Regions from separate parts of the Homo sapiens genome. Here region 2 is linked to region 1. A link means that fine-mapping ties the variant in region 1 to the expression of a gene that starts in the linked region. Tissue or cell type: esophagus mucosa. Region 1 holds a variant in brackets; the other region holds the start of a gene. All regions are shown on one strand. Distances are from middle to middle.

Evidence for each region. PIP is the estimated chance that this variant, and not a neighbour inherited with it, causes the effect.
Region 2: MELTF starts here. The variant in region 1 is fine-mapped to the expression of MELTF in esophagus mucosa (GTEx, PIP above 0.99). The same link has a PIP of 0.9 or more in cerebellum and nasal epithelium.

The regions. Positions count from the first base shown.
Region 1 is chr3:196,996,662-197,007,215 of GRCh38, reverse strand. It overlaps MELTF (melanotransferrin), which reads left to right. Exons shown (of 16, transcript NM_005929.6): 14 at 480-667; 15 at 3,117-3,315; 16 at 3,765-5,476. The coding sequence ends at 3,844. It overlaps MELTF-AS1 (MELTF antisense RNA 1), which reads right to left and starts at 4,310. Exons shown (of 4, transcript NR_038285.1): 1 at 4,243-4,310; 2 at 3,246-3,614; 3 at 2,857-3,119; 4 at 2,472-2,722. It also overlaps the pseudogene RPSAP30. RefSeq lists silencers at 3,352-3,751, 3,792-4,581, 4,732-4,811. The variant A/G (reference allele first, on the strand shown) is at 5,381.
Region 2 is chr3:197,024,852-197,034,359 of GRCh38, reverse strand. It overlaps MELTF (melanotransferrin), which reads left to right and starts at 4,543. Exons shown (of 16, transcript NM_005929.6): 1 at 4,543-4,706; 2 at 6,450-6,604; 3 at 7,601-7,700. The coding sequence starts at 4,658. RefSeq lists enhancers at 2,528-2,822, 1,927-3,126, 3,514-4,150, 4,151-4,787 and silencers at 4,321-4,810, 4,861-4,910, 5,101-5,280.

The DNA of each region.
Region 1 (10,554 bases):
GCATCCACAAGTGATGCTATACCCTGTTCCATTTGAGAACTTCAGCCCTTAGGGACAATCACCCACCACCTTCAGGGAGCCACCCCACACTCAGGCTTGAGGATGTAACACATAGATGGGGTTCTCTGCCTGGGAGTGATTAACAGCCTCAGTTTCCTCACCTGTAAAATGGGGACAAAAACACCTACCCTGCGTTACTGTTGTGGGGATCAAGCAACGCGTGTAAAGTACTTGTCACATAGTAGGTACTCCCTACTCCCTGCTAATTAATGGCAGCTCCTGCTAATGGCATGAACACAGCTGGGTTCTTTCACCCCGGTAACACAGCAGAGCACGTGGAGAATGGAGAGGGTTGGGGAGCTGGCCAGATGTTGCCACCTCCCTGTGGTGAAGGCCTTGGGGTCCCAGGATAGCAGCTTCTCTTTACACTTCTCTCCACTCCCGGAACGTCCCCACACACACTGCTTTACCCCCCTCAGGCCACAATTCCGAGCCCTGGGCTGCTGAGCTCAGGTCAGAGGACTATGAACTGCTGTGCCCCAACGGGGCCCGAGCCGAGGTGTCCCAGTTTGCAGCCTGCAACCTGGCACAGATACCACCCCACGCCGTGATGGTCCGGCCCGACACCAACATCTTCACCGTGTATGGACTGCTGGACAAGGCCCAGGTGAGCCAGGGTGGGGCTACCTCATTGAGGGGTGTGCAGCAGAGGTAAGCTGAGCCCCTGGGAGGCCTCAGTCTACCTGGAGCAGACCTCTAGAGAAATTGAGGAAGCCCGGGGGAAATTCTGTGATTTTCACTTACGCAAGGACATCCCTCCAGAAACTGTCCCCTCTGCCTCCTGCATCGTTGATTTTCCCTTCTCAGTCGGACCATTTTCACCAACATGAAACATGCTGTGACTTCTGCCATCCTTAAAGAACAAACTAACCTCTTGGTCTCACATCCATCCTCTTGCAGCTGTAATCCTGCTCCCTTTTTTTCTTTTTTTTTTGAGACGGAGTCTTACTCTGTCGCCCCAGGCTGGAGTGCAGTGGCACTATCTCGGCTCACTGCAAGCTCCGCCTCCCGGGTTCACGCCATTCTCCCACCTCAGCCTCCTGAGTAGCTGGGACTACAGGCACCCGCCACCATGCCTGGCTAATTTTTTCTATTTTTTAGTAGAGAAGGGGTTTCACCGTGTTAGCCAGGATGGTCTCGATCTCCTGACCTCGTGATCCGCCCACCTCGGCCTCCCAAAGTGCTGGGATTACAGGCATGAGCCACTGTGCCCGGCCAATCCTGCTCCCTTTCGAAGCAAAACTCCTCCAAAGAGTGGTCTGCTCTGGAGTTAACAAGTCCTCTCCTCTGGCCTCTCTTAAGGATGGAGACTGAGTTAGCAAGTCCTCTCCTCTGGCCCCTCTTAAGGATGGAGACTACCCCAGACAGGCTCCCACCAGGGCCCTGAAGCTGTTCTTGTCAAGGTCACAGTGACCCATGTTGCTAAACCCAGTGGCCATTTCTCAGTCTTCATTTTACTTGACCTCTCAGTGGCACTGGCCACAGCTCTCCCTCCTCCTGGAAACACCTTCCCCTGCAGATGCCCAGGTCCTCAGCCCTGCCTGGCTGTCCTCTCACTCTCTGGCCACTCCTCAGTCTTCTCTGCTGATTTCCTCCCCATCTCCCTGACCTGTTAGCCCTAGGATTCAGTTCTCAGCCCTCTTCCCTGTCTACAGCTTACCCTTGATCTCATCCAATCCCATGTCATCAAATACCATCTATATACAGATGGCTTCTAAATTTACATCTTCAGACATCAGTCCCAAACTTGCATATTTAACTACATACTTGACATTTTGACTTGTGTTTCTAACAGTCATCTCAAATGGATCAAGTCCAAAGTTGGACCCCCGTCCCTCCTTCAGTCTTCCCCACTTCAATTAAGAGCAACTTTAGCTTTTCCATTTCCTCGGGAGTCATTTTTGACTCCGGTCTTCCTCTCGTGCTCTACAGCCAATCTATCAGCAGATCCCATTGGTTGTGCTTTCAAAATATACCTAGAATTTAAACCCAGGTTGTCTCACAATGGAGCCACTGGTTTCTAACCACTCCCCCTCCCCCGACTTATGCTGAAATTGCCTTCTCCACACCCACCAGCACCACAGAACTGCAGAGCTGGCTGGCTCGCCAGGCCTGTTCCTAAACTTTGACATTGTGAACTGACGCATGTTCCTTCCTGTCATCTTCCCCACAGAACCCCTCTATCCCAGGAGTGCTTTACTCTGGGTCCCTGGGCTTCCCTAGGGGGTTGCTAAGTCCTCTGAAGTAATGTGGGAGAAGAATCCTGGGTGGATGTGCATTTTTCTGGGGAGAAGGCTGACAGCTTTCATCAGATCTTCAGGAGGATCTGCGAGTCCCTCCAAAAAGACTGAGAGCCACCTGACTCCTTCGTTCCTCCTTGATCAGTACTTAACACTTTACATAGACATTCATGCATGTTCTCCAGATGTCCTTTATTTATATTCGTATTCATAAGTTCTCATACTACTTCTGGTCTTTTTAGTAGCTCTTTTAGGGCTGTAGCCACAGAACGGTCATTCTAGTGATTCTGAGCAGGGTGGAGAGGAGTGCAGCATCCCTGGGCGGGTGGGTCAGTGAAGACACGCCCAGCTCACCTGATATTCTGTGACTGGTTGCAGAACACAAGTCCCTCTCGAAATTGTTTAGGTTTGTGGGGAGATATCTGTAAGACAGAGTGAGAAAGCCTTATGGAAAAGGCCAAGAAGTGCTCAGCAGGCCTAGCAGAACGCTCAGGAATCCCACCCACACCATCCCTCATTTCTGGGTCTTTCTTCCTGGACATCTCAGGCCTCAGACCTGCATCCAGGAGCTGGAGCACCGCAGTGCTTCTGAACGCCTCTTCCAGTGGCACCTGCGGGCCTAGTGTCCCCACACCCGCTTGGGTGACAGAGGCCAATCAGTTGTCAAGCTTATGACTTCCAATCAGAGTGGTGGGGCCCTGAAATGACTTGCTCTTTGGGTCACTGTATGTAAAGCAATTTGCAGCTAGCGGCACTGGGCGGGTGACCCTGCCTGAGCCCAGTGAGGAGCAGGTCGTCTGCCTGCGGTGCTTCCAGGACCTGTTTGGAGACGACCACAATAAGAACGGGTTCAAAATGTTCGACTCCTCCAACTATCATGGCCAAGACCTGCTTTTCAAGGATGCCACCGTCCGGGCGGTGCCTGTCGGAGAGAAAACCACCTACCGCGGCTGGCTGGGGCTGGACTACGTGGCGGCGCTGGAAGGGATGTCGTCTCAGCAGTGCTCGGGCGCAGGTAGGACAGGCCCGCCCTGCCGCCTCCCCTGGTGCTATTCAGACCCCTTCACCCCAGAACCCTGAGGGAGCGGGGGGCGCTGCGGGTCCGGGGAGGCGGGTGGAGGCCCGTTCGCAGCAGTCCAGGTGGGGTGTCCCGGGAGGATTTTGGCCAGGAGGCTGCGGGCCGGGAGGGCGGGAGCCCGGCGGGTCTCCCAGACGGACCTGGGTAATGAGTGTGAACGCTCAAAACGGCGGCGCGGGGAGGATCTGGGGCCACGGCAGAGACATGCGTGTGCTGCCTTTCTGGAAAGAGCGCATCTGGAAGGGCAGCAGGGGAAAGGAGCACAAAGAGGGAGGCTGCGGCGAGTTCGGTCCCGAAAGATGCCCCCACCCCCACCCCAGAGCGGGCGCCTGAGGCGGCCACCGCGGCCCGGGCTTCGGGGCCTGACCCGCCGCGTTCGTCCCCAGCGGCCCCGGCGCCCGGGGCGCCCCTGCTCCCGCTGCTGCTGCCCGCCCTCGCCGCCCGCCTGCTCCCGCCCGCCCTCTGAGCCCGGCCGCCCCGCCCCAGAGCTCCGATGCCCGCCCGGGGAGTTTCCGCGGCGGCTTCGCGCTGGAATCCAGAAGGAAGCTCGCGAAGGCCGGGCCCGGCGTGGGCGGGAGCAGGCGCCTCCCCGGGAGCCCCGCCGCCCACGGGCGCCACCTGGCGCTGCTACCTGAGGCGCCGCCCCCGGGCCCGCGCGGCCCTTCCCGCCAACCGCCGCCTCCCGCCACCTGGAGCCGCGCGGGCCGCGCCGGAGGAGGCCGGTTGCCCAGGAAACCGCTGAGTCCGGGCTTCCCGCCGCCCGCCCCGCGGTGTCGCCCGAGGGGCCCGCCCGCCTCCTCCCCGCAGCCCCGCGCCCCCGTCCGCGAGGCCCCCTGGGGACGCGGTGGCCGCCGAGGCGCCTACACCCGCAGGCCGCGGCCAGGCCGTCCCAGGAGGCCCCGGCGCCAACGGGACCCGGCGCGTGGGACAGCGGCCTCTGCTGGCGGCGGCGGGAGGGAGGCCGGACCGGGGCGACGGGGAGAAGCCTTCGCCCGCGGGACCGTGTCCGGGGTGGGGGCTCCAGTTCCTCCGACCGCCCGTGCGCTGGGAGGGAGGCCGAGCCCGGGGAACGCCGCGTGCCCTGCCTCGTCCCCCACTGTGGCCGCGCCAGCTCCATCCCGGGCCAGCCGCGTCCACGGGCCCCCTCCCGAGTCTCCTCAGGCTCTCGCCTCCCCTACCCCCGTGGGATGCCCACCGCCCGCACCCACGCCCGAGCCTGGCGGCAGCAGCCGCCCCCCGCCTGAAGGGAGCCGGAGGTGACCCAGGCCGCGGGCTCCCGAGGCCCCTGAAGGGCTGCGCGTGGGGACCCGCCATGCTTCTGGGTTCCGAACGGGGGTGAGCTCCGTCTCCTCACCCGGCCCCGCACCCGCTGGGCCTGGGGACCCCTCACTCCCCGTGCCCGCCCCTCCGCGAGGCAGCAGAAAGCGCCCGGCCGGGGCCTCTCTCTACTCCATCTTGCCACAGTTGTCTGAGAAGCCAGAAAAAGTTTCCAGAACTGGCAGCCCTTAAAAAAAATGAAGAGGAAGAGAAGAAATGGGAGCAGGCAGCCCTCGTCAGCAGACCGGGAGCCGCGTGGGCGCGGAGCCATTTGCATTCCGGTCTGCGGGGGCTCGGGGATGCTGGTGACAGGCCCGGTTCCCGGTGGCTCGCCCCCACCTGCGGGCGTCGGGAAGGATCCCTTCCATCTCTCAGCCGCAGAGGAGGCCCTGGCAGCGCCCCGGCTGTAGCCATGCAACCCCGAGGAGTCCCGGGCACCTTCACCCCACCGGGAGGGGCCACAAGGACCTGGGCCTCGGCCACCAAGCTTTGTCCCCTCTCGCTGTGGGGGGCTAGTGATTCTCCTCCGACCTGACGATTGCTTGGTTTTTTCAAAAGGGAGTTTTGTGCGGTGAGAAGTGTGTTTCTGTGTGGCTAACTCTGGGCTAGCGTGCCGTGGCCATTGAAGGTGTGGCCTGCGTGGGTGCAGTGTAAGTGACGCTGGATTGTCAGGTGGCAGCAGGGG[A/G]CCCCTGCTGTGTCAGTGCTAATGAAACATGTTGGTTGGTTTCTAAAATAAAGCCAAACAAGCCAGCACATGCAGAGGCTTGGACCCTGATAGAAACTTCTGCTGCCGATTTCTTTCGTTTTGTTAGGCACTCAAAGGCCTACCTGCTCCACCGAGAAGGGCAGATTCCATTCTCCAAGAGCCAGTCAGGGACCACTCTCATCCTCTAGTCAGTGAGGCCCCCCGCGCCCTTCTTCGACCTGGACTGGTTCTCTGGCTCTTGCAGGGCCTCCGCTGCCCTGGCACATTCCAGCTGCCTCCACCCCATCAGGCTCTGGGGTGTCTGCCCTTCTGTGGATGGGTGCAGAGAAGGGTGCAAACTTCTCTGCTGCCCCCTGCCCCACACCTCCAAAATAAGCGGCCCACATCTTTTCTCTGGCAAGCTCGCTGCTAACTCACTGGAGGGGGGCGTGGGGAGCGGATCTCCCAGAGACCCTACAGTGGGTGCTCTGTGGTATCTACTGAGGTGGGGGTGGGCCCGGCTGGTCTTCATCAGTGCTCTGCTCTCCCTCTGGAAGGGGAGGTTTTCTCTGCTTCCCTCTCTCATGGCTTCACTTGGCCCCCACACCACCACCCCTCGCCGCTGTGGCCATCTCCCAGAGCCAGGTCTTGCCCACCACTGCACACAGGCCATTTTCCATGAAGTCGGCTCAGTTATCACAAAGCCAGTCAATTCCTGGGGACCTGGATGGCCAGAGTTGACCGACTTTGTCTCTGCATCACATGGACGAGTCTCAGCTGCACAGTCACTCCAGCTCGCCTCATGCTACCACTTCCCTACCCTGAACTTCTGGAAAGGAAAGTTAACCTTTGGGCACCCTAGCCCCTCATCTGAAAAACACACAGTACGATCACCAGCTTGGTGAGGTGGTTGTGAAGATCCAGTCTAAGATGCAAAACACTCAGCACAGTGCTTGGCACACGGCATAGAGACTAAGACACAAAACACTGCACAGTGCTTGGCACACGGCATAGAGTCTAAGACACAAAACACTCAGCACAGTGCTTGGCACACGGCATAGAGTCTAAGACACAAAACACTCAGCACAGTGCTTGGCACACGGCATAGAGTCTAAGACACAAAACACTCAGCACAGTGCTTGGCACACGGCATAGAGTCTAAGACACAAAACACTCAGCACAGTGCTTGGCACATGGCATAGAGTCTAAGACACAAAACACTCAGCACAGTGCTTGGCACACGGTGGGTGCAGGAAGGATGTTCACTGTCACTACTGCTATTACTCCAGAGCCTGTTTTCTTGTCTTCAATTTGGAATTCCTGGGAGAGATCATCTGATTGGCCCAGTGTGCGTCAGGCATCTACCACTGGACCAGTCAGCACAGGCCAGAAGCAGGGTGTATAGCGGACACATGGCCACCGAGGCCCCAGAAAAAGGAAATGAAATCCTTGTGAGTCAGGCAGCCATGCCCCAGCACCCCCATGGCTACCAGGCCTGTTGTAGGGCTATTGGCCATTTGTTGAGCAAATACTTACTGATACCTACTTGTCAGTACCACCCCTAGACCTAGGCAAGAGGGATTCTAGTCCTCGGTTTTGTGCTTTCAAGCAGTGCTTTTCAGACCTTGATGTGCACATTAACTGCCTGGGGATCTTGTTAAAATGTAGACTCTGGTTCAGAAGGGCCAGCATGAGACTGAGAGTCTGCAGTTCAGACCAGCTCCCAGGTGGTGCCTGTGCTGGTGGTCCAGGGACCACACTTTGAGAAGCAAGCCTTCAGAGGCCTCCCCCAGACCACACCCCACACCCCACCCACAGAGGGAGCAATCACAGGGAAAAGGGATGCGTTCACTCAGGGGTCATCTTTTCTTTTTTTGAAACGGAGTCTTGCTCTGTTGCCCAAGCTGGAGTTCAGTGGCACAATCTTAGCTCACTGCAACCTCCGCCTTCCGGGTTCAAGTGATTCTCCTGCCTCAGCCTCTCAAGTAGCTGGAAATACAAGCGCCCACCACCACACATGGCTACTCTTTGTATTTTTCATAGAGATGGGGTTTCACCATGTTGGCCAGGATGGTCTCGAACTCCTGACCTCGTGATCCGCCCACCTCGGCCTCCCAAAGGCCTCCCAAAGGGATTACAGGCATGAGCCACCGCACCTGGCCCCAGAGCCCATTTTTCACACCATGTTCCAGATACCTGGGATCCTGGACTTTATACCTCAAACAGCCCTGAGCCAGCTTCCAGGGTCTGGAGGGCCCCTTACCTAGATCCTGCCTCCCAAGGTGGCCAAAGCTCTCGCAGGAGGTGTAGTTGAGCGTGATGAGCAGGCTGCCGTGTCCTCTGCAATGCGCAAGGCCCTCGAAGCGTGGGTTGCAGCCTGGATGGGAAGAGAGCGGGTGGGCTATGGCGGGGAAGCCTGTTCTGTCCGCAGCTCCTATTCTAGGCTGCTGAGTCTTTATAAAGGTTTGTTTGTCAAAGTAGGAGGACAGGACACATTCTCTTTAATAGCTTGTTAGCTTGATTTGTAACATTTAATGTGGAGCCACATGGTAGGCGGGCCTCTGTTGGTACTCTTGTCCTAGGCCCCACAAGTGCTTGGGGTCGGCCAGCCTGCTGTGTGCACAGCCCTGTGCTCAGCGCTCTGGAAGGTACAAAGAAGTAAGTACACGGCCTACTAGCCCTGCCCCCCTTGGTCTCATTTGGAGAGGCCACCGAGGTGGTGTGGTAGAAGAACACTGCTGTGCAGGAGGGACAGTGACAGGATAGACAGGGCCTTGTGGCCCACACGGCACAAGCCGTCACCCCCAGCTTCAGACTCCTCCCCAGGTGTTCTTGACTGTTTACAATGAGGATGTGTTCCTCAGGACAACATTCTTGAAAAAGATTCACACAACATTTACAATAGGTATAAATGCTACAATTTTTTAAAAAGATATATTAATTAGGCTGGGTGTGGTGGCTCACCGCTGTCAACCCAGCCCTTTGGGAGGCTGAGGTGGAAGAATCGCTTGAGCCCAGGAATTTAAGACCAGTCTGGGCAACATAGTGAGACCCCATCTCTACAAACAATTTTTAAAAAAATTAGCCCAGTGTGGTGGCCCACACCTGTACCTCCAGCTACTTGGGAGGCTGAGGTGGGAGGATCACTTGTGCCTGGGAGGTGGAGGTTCCGGTGAGCCGTGATGGTGCCACTGCACTCCAGACCAGACCCTGCCTCAAAAAAAAAGATATTCCAATTTTGTGGAATAAAAACCAGCTCACTCACCTAAGATTCAGGAAACTTGAATTCTCATTCCACTTTGGTATTCACCCTGGGCCAATACTTTCTCCTCTCCCCATCTCAGTTCCCAAATCTATAAACTGAGAAGCGGGTATGGGGCCTCGACGATTTCTAGCTCTAACAGTAATTCTTAGACTAAAACACATCTGAGTCTTCACGGGGTTGTTGCCTGTGCTGAAGTGAGAGGGGCCGGGTGGGCTCTTTTTGTTTCTGCCTTTCTCAGCTGCCTCTGCGTTGGTGCTAACAAGCCAGAAGCTGGGTTTCACAGCGGAGAGTCATATACGTCAAAGCTTCTCGCCTTGAGCGTATGTGAGGATCACCTGAGGGTTTATTAAAACATAGACTGCGAAGCTGGGTGCAATGGTGTATGCCTGTAGTCCCAGCTACTTGGAGGTTGAGGCAGGAGGATTGCTTGAGCCCAGGAGTTGAGGCCAGCCTGGGCAACATAGTGAGACTCCCATCTCTAAAAATGTATATATTGGCCAGGCATGGTGGTTCACGCCTGTAATCCCAGAACTTTGGGAAGCTGAGATGTGAGGATTGCTTGAGGCCAGTAGTTCAAGACCAGCCTGGGCAACATAGGCCCAACCTCTACACACACACACACACACACACACAGACACAAAAGTGTTTTTAATTAGCCAGGCGTGGTGGTGTTTGCCTGTGATCCCAGCTACTCGGGAGGCTGACAGGGGAGGATTGGTTGGGCCCAGGAGTTTGAGATTGCAGTGAGCTCTGAGCTATGATTGCACCATTGCACCCCAGCCTGGCAGGTTCTCAGGTGGTCTGATGCTGCCGGTCAAGCCACCTCACTTTGAAGAACACTGTTCAGGGCAATGTGAGCTCACACCCCATGAGCGCATTAACAGGTGCCTGCCCCAAGGTGTCCAGGGCTTGGGTGGGAAGGGTGAGTGGTTCCCCCTAACCAGGGAACTTCATGGAGGAAGTTGGGCCCAGCCTGGAAGACAAGCCAGGTCTGTGTCCGTGGCCCCCGTGGGCTCCATGTGGAGGGGTGGAATGTGCGGGAAGGTGCCTCAGCGCCTGGCCCGGGTCTCCGAGCACGCAGGCTGTCGGTAGAATGGCATTCTGACTTCACCCTTTCCCAGCATGCGGCTCCCCCGTCCCTCTGGCCCTGCACTCCCCACCCTCACAATTCCGAGCAGGGCCCTCGAGAACAGGAGAGAACTCAGAGATCAGCATGTGAAGGTGGTGCGTGGTCGGAATACCCCCCTTCCTCCTTCCTAGCTTCTGATGTCCCTGGAAACCTCCAACTCTACAGAAAAAACAAATGTTATCTGCTCTACTGAAGTCAGTCTTTGGGTCGCTGGAGGTTGAAGAGAAGGGCCTGGTGGTTTACCGGGCAGGGCATCCTTAGCCAAGATCCCCATCCAACAACTTGTGGCAGACTCTGCTGCTGGTCTTCTCCCCTTCTTCCTGTCTAGCAGACTCCAGTTTTGTTCGGGTGGCAGCGTGCCCAAGTACAAATACTCACTCCTGCGTGCCCAGGCAACTCGGTTCTGGCTGAAGAAACCTGAGAAGTTTCAGGGCAGCTGTTTAGGAGGAACAAACAGCTAGCACAGCCCATTGCCCCGGAGCCCGTCTCCCTCTTCCTGCCCGGAAAGTGGACAGGATCGCTGGAAAATGGAGCAAGAAGCACAAGGAAAAGGACCGCATGGTCAGGACAGCAGAGCAAAGAGACAAAAGCGTTCGGCTCAGGTGGCAGCACCCAGGCCTGGAACAGTCTAGACTCCCTGACAGCTGATTCCTGTCTTCTCTTGTTTCAGCTGGCTGCATTCTGAATTGATATAAGTGGTAACAGTGGAAAGAGCCCGAGATGGGCCCTTGGGGCTCCCAGGCTCTTGTCTTGGCTTTGTGTGGCTCAGGGAAAGTCACG
Region 2 (9,508 bases), 28 kb before region 1:
AAGAGCGTAACATCCTCTGACATCACACTACTGCAGGTGCTCACACCCCAACCAGTCAGCAAGAGAGTAACATCCTCTGACATCACACTACTGCAGGTGCTCACACCCCAACCAGTCAGCAAGAGCGTAACATCCTCTGACATCACACTACTGCAGGTGCTCACATCCCATCCCGTCAGCAGGAGAGTAACATCCTCTGACATCACACCACTGCAGGTGCTCACACCCCAACCAGCCAGCAAGAGCGTAACATCCTCTGACATCACACTACTGCAGGTGCTCATGTCCCAACCAGTCAGCAAGAGTGTAACATCCTCTGACATCACACTACTGCAGGTACTCACCCCAACCAGTCAGCAAGAGTGTAACATCCTCTGACATCACACGACTGCAGGTGCTCACACCCAACCAGTCAGCAAGAGTGTAACATGCTCTGACATCACACTACTGCAGGTGCTCACACCACAACCAGTCAGCAAGAGTGTAAAATCTTCTGACATCACACGACTGCAGGTGCTCACACCCAACCAGTCAGCAAGAGTGTAACATCCTCTGACATCACACTACTGCAGGTGCTCACACAGTAACCAGTCAGCAAGAGAGTAACATCCTCTGACATCACACTACTGCAGATGCTCACACCCCAACCAGTTGGCAAGAGTGTAACATCCTCTGACATCACACTACTGCAGATGCTCACACCCCAACCAGTTGGCAAGAGTGTAACATCCTCTGACATCACACTACTGCAGGTGCTCACACCCAAACCAGTCAGCAAGAGAGTAACATCCTCTGACATCACACTACTGCAGGTGCTCACACGCCAACCCGTCAGCAAGAGTGTAACATCCTCTGACATCACACTACTGCAGGTGCTCACACCCAAACCAGTCAGCAAGAGTGTAACATCCTCTGACATCACACTACTGCAGGTGCTCACACCCCAACCAGTCAGCAAGAGTGTAACATCCTGTGACATCACACTACTGCAGGTGCTAACGTCCCAACCAGTCAGCAAGAGCGTAACATCCTGTGACATCACACTACTGCAGATGCTCACACCCCAACCCATCAGCAAGAGTGTAACATCCTCTGACATCACACTACTGCAGGTGCTCACACCCCAACAAGTCAGCAAGAGGGTAACATCCTCTGACATCACACTACTGCAGATGCTGACACCCCAACCCGTCAGCAAGAGTGTAACATCCTCTGACATCACACTACAGCAGGTGCTCACACAGTAACCAGTCAGCAAGAGTGTAACATCCTCTGACATCACACTACTGCAGGTGCTCACACCCCAACCAGTCAGCAAGAGTGTAAAATCTTCTGACATCACACGACTGCAGGTGCTCACACCCCAACCAGTCAGCAAGAGAGGTAACATCCTCTGACATCACACTACTGCAGGTGCTCACACCCCAACCAGTCAGCAAGAGTGTAAAATCTTCTGACATCACACTACTTCAGGTGCTCACACCCAACCCATCAGCAAGAGTGTAACATCCTCTGACATCACACTACTGCAGGTGCTCATGTCCCAACCAGTCAGCAAGAGTGTAACATCCTCTGACATCACACTACTGCAGGTGCTGACACCCCAACCAGTCAGCAAGAGTGTAAAATCTTCTGACATCACACGACTGCAGGTGCTCACACCCCAACCCATCAGCAAGAGTGTAACATCCTCTGACATCACACTACTTCAGGTGCTCACACCCCAACAAGTCAGCAAGAGGGTAACATCCTCTGACATCACACTACTGCAGGTGCTCACACCACAACCAGTCAGCAAGAGTGTAAAATCTTCTGACATCACACGACTGCAGGTGCTGACACCCCAACCAGTCAGCAAGAGCGTAACATCCTCTGACATCACACTACTGCAGGTGCTCACACCCAAACTTTCTCAGGGCACACCAGCCTTCCAAGGGTTCCCCAGAATAAAAACTATTTGGCTTGTTCTTAAAGACATTGCGGGCCATAGAAATAGACAGACAGAAATTATGATTTGTTGAAAAATATTTTTTCCTAAGTACAATATTTTACTTCGTTTTGGGTAAAGGATTTCACCCTTTGCTGGCTCATTAGCCACTACCTGCTGATGGACCTTCTCAGTCTCCTGTCAAAGGCCCCCACTTTCTGAGGCTGCCTGTAGTGTATTCCCTCCATGGGATGTACTGTTCCTCGATTCCCTGACAAGCAAGCTCAATGCTTCTGGGCACTCTGAATCCTTGGAGAGCCAGAGCTGTGTCTTTGGCAAGAGTGGAGAAGAGCTCTTTTTATTTCATATTATGGGGTAGGGTCAGGGAGACTCAGGCAGAGCTGCTTAGGCCCCAGAATCTGATCGAAGTGTCAGTGAAACCAGTTCCTTTAGTCTGTATGCTCTCCCTCTAATCTCAATATGAGTCTAGAATGGGGACCAAACTAACCTCAGCTTCTGCTCCTCCAGAAGGCTGTTTGTGGGTTAAACTACTGGCTTATTACTCTCTCATTACATCCCACCCATTTCTCTGGCACACCCAAGTATGTCCGGACCCCAGAAATGGCAGAATCCTGGCTCAAGCTGAGGCAGACTTCCCCATTCCACAAAGGTGATGCGCGTTCATGCCAACCCTGGGCCAACGGGCCCGATGTAGAATCCCTGAGAACCCAGAGGCAGCAAGTTCACTGATGAGTCACAGCTGAATGACACCCAAGAGATAAGGGAAGAACTTCATTGTGAAAGAGCCCAGCAAACCTCTTAGGTTATGGTTGTTCTCACTCCCTATCAGCGTCACGTGGAGTTTTGCCAAAGGAAGGACTTAGTCATCAAACAGATCCTGCCAGTCATCTGGTGGCTCCTGGAGTGTGCCAACTGAGCCTTTCTATCCTCGTGGTCAGGAGAACGAGGCTTGTTAAGGACTCTTCTATTTATTCCATCTTCTTAGGACAAGCCATCAGCCCCTCTAGCAAGGCTGCCTGCTAGTCCATTCGGCACCTTTGTGCAAACTAGGAAGAAGGGATCCATCTGGGGGGATGGAGAAACAGCTTCCACAGCACAAGTCCTCCAGAGCAGACAGGAGACGGAAAGTATGGCACGTCACGGCCATCATGACCTACCTTTTACATGTGGGGAACAAGCCCAGAGAGGGCGACGAACTCGCCCAGGGTCTGTAAGTCGCTGGTTTTTAAAAAGTAGAGCTCGAGTCTCCTGAAGCCCAGCCCATGTTCCTTCCCCTGATCCAGTGTGTGATAAGCAGTAGCTTCATGGCCCCATAGGAGGGAGGCCTTCCTTCCCCAGGGCGCAGAGCAAGCTCAAGGACAGACAAACTCAGAGGGATGTCTTCTCTCTCACTGTTGTACTTACCCATGTCAGAGAGAGACATCATTTCTGAGTCTCAGAGGGGCTGATGACATAAAGGTGAGGCCTAAATGGAGGCAGGTGACTAACAATGTCTTCAGTTCATTCCCCGCATCCCCAACCACATGGGGAGTGCCGCTTTTGCCCGCCTGCGACAGTGGTTCTCAACATTTGCTGTGCCCCGAAATAAAAACAGATTGTGGGCCCCGCCCCCAGAGCTGTCGATCCAGTGGGTCGGAGGTGGGGCCTGAGCACTTGCATTTCCAGCAAGTTCCAGGGTGATGCTCACGTTGCTGGCCTAGGGACCACACTGAGAACCACTGTCCTAGAAATACGGTCAACCCACCCTTTCCTCCCTCACCTTCTTCACTCTCTTCCTCCCCTTCTCCGCCTGTTTCTCCTTTTCCGCTTCCTCCAATTCCTCTCTGGTCCTCTTCTCACCTTCCAATCAGCTGGCTCTGCCACTGACTGGATGCCTGACTCGGGCAAGTCACCTCCCGTCTCTAGGCCCGAGGAGAGGCAGTCGGCTAGGCCGAGATGCCCCTGCCCGGCTCCCCCCTCGCCAGGGCGCTCGGCCTGGGCTCCCCCGTATCCCAGATCCTCTGTGCAGCTGTGGCCGAGATGCCCCTGCCCGGCTCCCCCCTCGCCAGGGCGCTCGGCCTGGGCTCCCCCGTATCCCAGATCCTCTGTGCAGCTGTGGCCGAGATGCCCCTGCCCGGCTCCCCCCTCGCCAGGGCGCTCGGCCTGGGCTCCCCCGTATCCCAGATCCTCTGTGCAGCTGTGGCCGAGATGCCCCTGCCCGGCTCCCCCCTCGCCAGGGCGCTCGGCCTGGGCTCCCCCGTATCCCAGATCCTCTGTGCAGCTGTGCTGGGAGGGAGCTGCTGCGTGAATGAGATCATCCTCCAGCTGCCCTCCAGCCCCGACTCTGGGATTCTGACCTCTCCTTCCTTCCACGTCTGAGCTTTTCTCTCTCCAGTTAGACACGGTATCTGGAGTCTTTCTAGGGCGCGAGGAGGGGAGGATACCCTGGAACGCGGGGTAGGAGGCTGAGGCGAGAGCCCCGAGCAGCGGCGCCCGGGCCCGAGCGGGAGGCCTCCAGCAGGGGGCGCGCCGGGGCCGCCCAGGGGCGGGGTCCGGGGTCGGCGGGAGGTGACCTGCGCCCCAGGGGCGTGGATTCCGCCCGGGAACTCGCGGCCGCACTTAAGGAGCTCGGGCCAGCGCGAGGGGGAGCAGGGAGGAAGCCCGGCTGCTGCGGACCTCCTCGGACCCGGACCCAGCCCCAGCCCGGCCCCAGCCAGCCCCGACGGCGCCATGCGGGGTCCGAGCGGGGCTCTGTGGCTGCTCCTGGCTCTGCGCACCGGTGAGGCCCCGCTGTGAGAGCCAAAGGCGGGCGGGGGTCCCGGGGCGCCGCGGCCCGGCTGAGCAGGTCCCGGGGCTGGAAATGTGCCTGAGCCTGCGGCTCCGGGGCAGTGAGACGGGGGAGGCAGGGGCTCGGGGTCGAGTGAGGACGGCGGAGGGAACTAGCACTGAAGCGCAGACGGGGAAGTCTGGAAGGCTTCTTGGAGGAGGCGGCCTCGAACACCCGAGGCTTCCGACGCTCCAAGGAGAAGCGCGGGCTGAGGCGTGGTGGGGAGGCCTCGGGGTGTGGAGAGGAGCTCCCGGAGGGCGGCCCCTCCCGACGGGCGCAGGAACTCAGGAAGACTTTGGGGGCTCGGAGCAGCTCTTTCTCCCGAGCCCCCGCGGGAGAAGATTCAGAGGGACTGACCGGCAGGCGCGGGAGTCCGCCCGGGGGTTTCTGGCACATGCAGGGATGGAGGTGGAGACGGAGGCCGGGTCCCCTCGCGTCGGCGCCCCGGGGAGTCAGGGCCCGGGATGGTGGGACGGGAGGCGGGACCTCGGGGAGCGGCTCGCGGGGATCGCGGGCGGCGACCGCCGAGGGGATGGAGTTCGTGGCACCGCTGTGGCCGCAGGCGACGCACTCATCAATGCAAACGATGAAGCCACCGCCACCCCCGCCCCGTCTGAACTTTGCAGTTTCCCGCCTGGGTGGTGGGGGGCTTGGAGCGCTGCGGAGGGGAGGGCAGTTCGACTTCCCAGGCCTCCGCCAGGAGTGGGGAGGGGAGGGCTGTGGCGGAAGCTTCAGTCTCGGCCCTTGGGCTGGTGGGGCTGCCACGGGAGGGTGACCTGGTTTCGGGCGGAGTCATGCGTTTCCCTCCCTCCTGCACAGGCCTCTGGCAGTGCTGGCTGGGGCAGGGTGAATGGCAGAGGAGCTCAGGCCTGAAAGTCATCGGCCCCAAGGGGCTCCAGCACCCCTTCCTCTGGGCCCCTAGCCTGGGAGCTCTCGGGGACTCTGACCCGGTCAGATCCTGAGGCATAAGCAGAAGTCCACTGAGGATGTGGGTGTCTCAGGCTCTCTACAAGGGGGTTTACTTTCAACACAGAAGGTGGGGTTTTTATCTGCTCTCTCAGAAGATGAAGCAGGCTCAGAGAGGCTTGAACCTACCCTGATGGGTCCTCAGCCTCCCCTCTGTGCCTGCCGTCTTCCCTTGGCAGGGCCTGGCACTGTGCCCACCGAGGGTGGCTTTGCAGCCAGCATCATCGCAGACACTCCCCGAGGGGACAGGGCTCCTGGAGGGCAGCCCACCCACAGCCCCCTCACCTCACTCTCCCGTCCCAGTTCATGAGGAAGGCCCAGGGACACTGCTGGGTGAGGGAACCTACACGAGCACCCTCTTCGGGAGGCCTGGAGAGGGGAAGAAGCTTCCACTTCCAGGGCCTGCCGAGACTCCCTAGCCAGTGCTCCCACCAGGTGGGGGTAGCTGAGAAGCGACCTGTAGACCCTCCCATTCCTCCATAAAGGGCCGGGTTCTGAGCCATTCCATTTGCCAGCAGCCGTGCTCCTGGTCAGAGAGGCCCTGAGCACAGGAATACCAGCCCTTCCCCTGTCTCTGCGCCTAGTGCCTCCCTGTGGGAGGGCAGGGCTGCCCTAGAGGACTGGCTGTCCAGGCGAATGGGCTCACACAGAACTGCTGGAGCCACCCTCCATGGTGGGCCGGGGCTGGGCAGGGCGGGGGAGCCGGGCCTCACGGTCCCCTGCCCGCAGTGCTCGGTGGCATGGAGGTGCGGTGGTGCGCCACCTCGGACCCAGAGCAGCACAAGTGCGGCAACATGAGCGAGGCCTTCCGGGAAGCGGGCATCCAGCCCTCCCTCCTCTGCGTCCGGGGCACCTCCGCCGACCACTGCGTCCAGCTCATCGCGGTGAGTCCTCTCCCTTCCACCCTGCCAGACAAGAGGGCTGTGACTCAGGAGGGAGCACACAACAGCCCCATTCACCAGGAAAGGAGCCGACCTCGCCCTGCCAGGCCCGGCCGATAGGATCTCCCGAGTCTCCCTGGCCACGAGGCCAGCTTGCCTCCCGCCGGGCCCAGGCCAGGAGGTGGGAGCCTCAGGAGGACCCGCTGCTCAGAGGGCGCCAGCAAAGAAAGGCACCTGAGAGGCTTCCCTTCCACAAGGCCCCTGCCAAGGGGGCCCAGATGGTGGCGGCCCCTCAGTGGCCGCAGGCGGTTACTTGCTCATCTTGCCATGGGGCTCTCCAGAATGGGGCTTGTGTGGTTTCTGGGGAAGGAGGAGCAGGGGCTGGACTCCCAGGTGGGTGAGCATGGGGTAGGAGAGCAGGTCTGCTGAGAACTGCTAAATGACACTGACAATCCTCCGAGGCACCACCAGAGAGTGGCGTCCCTCCTGGGTGGGTGCAAAGAAAGCTGGCTTTTCATTCCAGCTCTGCCCCCCATATGCCCCCAAGACCTAATCCAATCACAGGCCCACACTGGGGCCAAGGCTGTGGGTCAGGCTCCATGTGAGGGCAGAAACCCCAAGCACAGACCACCTTAGAGAAAAAAAGCTAGAAAACCTAGGGTAGCAGTAGAGGCGCAGGGTGGAGGGACAGAAAGCGAGGGAGACTCACTTGTCACTGCGCACCGTTTTCTGCTATCTGATTTTTTTACTATGATATCTGAGTCCTGCAAAATCAATGATTAGTATTTTTTTTTTAACATTATTAGGAAAACAAGGTGAATCCCTGGCCTGGGAAAGGGGGAGAGCCCTGGGCTCTGGTTGGGCTCCTGGGACAGATGAGAAGGACAGCACAGCCCTCTGGGGCTTGGGGTGGGGCCCCAGGCCATCTGGTAGGTGTCCCGAGTTCTTTGCTGAGCAGGCCAGCTGGGCCAGGCTTGGCTGAGCCACATTTCCTTGCAGGCCCAGGAGGCTGACGCCATCACTCTGGATGGAGGAGCCATCTATGAGGCGGGAAAGGAGCACGGCCTGAAGCCGGTGGTGGGCGAAGTGTACGATCAAGGTAAGAGGGTGCAGTGGGAGGAGAGAGGACAGCCTGCGCTGGAAGTCAGCTCTCCAGGCTGCCCTTGCTGGGCCTGGCCTGAGCTGGCCATCAGCCCTGTCCACAGAGCAGTCCTGGAGTCCCAGCCAGAAGAACGCCCTAAGGCTCTCTCAAATTCCCCAGGGACAGGAGCTCCAGGGACACAGAGAGCTGCCCCAAGTCTGCTCTTGCCCGCAGGGAGCCCAGCAGCCCCCTAGCCTGTGCCCACTCAGCTCTTACTGCGGGCTGTCCCGGGCCTGGCGTGGTGCCGGGCACGGTGCTGTGTGCGTAACTGCCTTGGGTGAGCAAGGCGTCCTTAATGCCGAGCCACCTGCACTCTCAGGGCCTCCCTTCAGAAGCCCGGCTCCGGGTAGGGAGGTGCTGTCTGGCAGCGGCACAGCTCAGCAGACCCAGCCCTTCCCCTTCCCATGACTTCTGTGACCTTGGCCAACCTCCACTTCCCAGACTGTATAATGGGGATAGTAACACCTGCGCTGTCACCCAGACTAAATGAGCCAGGCCGTGTGCCCACCTGACATGTGGTATGTGCTGGAAAGTGTGAGTTCCTTTGCCCAGTCCCCGCATCACACATGGGACCTGCCTCCAGCTCAGCCAGCTCCTGTGTCTCCCCCGCCACCTCTGCTTGGCCGGTGCCTGGCCTCCATCACAGTCCAGCGCAACTGTCACCTCCTCCAAGGTGCTCCCTGAGCCCCTCCCTCTCTGGAGCAGGGCCTCTCTTGCCCGCACCCACATGGCCTCTGCAAGCCTCTGCCTGCTCAGTCTCGTTAGTCCTCAGAGGAGGGTCCAGTCTTCCCCTGTGTCTACCCTCTGGAACTCCACACAGCATCTCGCTTGGAGAAAGCACTGGCTGGTTCCTTGTTGAATTAATGGCCATCAAATGACACACGGCACAGTCCAACCCTGCACACCCATCAGCCAGAAACAGCTCTGCCTCCGAGGCCCCACGCACCTCTTCCTCTTTAATTAACTCGACACCTCTACTGAGCACCTGCTACCCGCTGGTCATAAGCATGCAGCAGTAAACGAAGAGACCTTCCTGCCCCCACAGAGCAGAGAGTAAATAAACACACCCAAAACAATACAGTGACACATGTTGGGGTGCTGTGAGGAAAAGGGAAGGGCAGGACAGAGAAAACGAGGGTTGCGGGGAAATCCACTGAAATAGAGCAGGCAGGACGGTGCTCTGCAGAGGTGATGGGTAAGCTGAGCCCCGCAACCATCTCAGGCGGTCCAGAGGATTGGTAAGAAACAAGGCGGGTGAGTCAGAGGATGGTACCAGACGGAGCTACTCAGGTTGGCGGGGGCCAGACCCTGGTGTGCAAGAAGTAACACTGGCTTTATGTTCTAGAACTCAACTTCATTCTGATATGGCCTCCCACACCACCGGGCAGTTTGTGCACGCGTGCATGCCTGCGTGTGTGCGCCCGTGCGATGGGAGACCCTCTGGGCATCAGTTCCCACAGCTGAGTCTGTGTTTTGCCTGAGCAGCCCCTTGGAGCCACCTTGGCACAGGGGAACGCTTTGCAAGGCTGCAGAGCCCTGGCCCCACCACACACACCCTGCAGCATTCAGGGTCGTGAGCGACTTGGGGCCACATCGCTAGTTCTCTCTGTCTCTGCCTCTGTCTCACTCTCCTTCAACCCCCTCAGCACCAGGAAATCGCCGCTCCTCATCTGGGGAAGCCCCTCCTCGGCTCCCCTGCTCCTCCCAGACACCCTTCTTCCCATGACCCTGACACCATTCCCCCAAACCCTCCAAGTTCTCCTAGG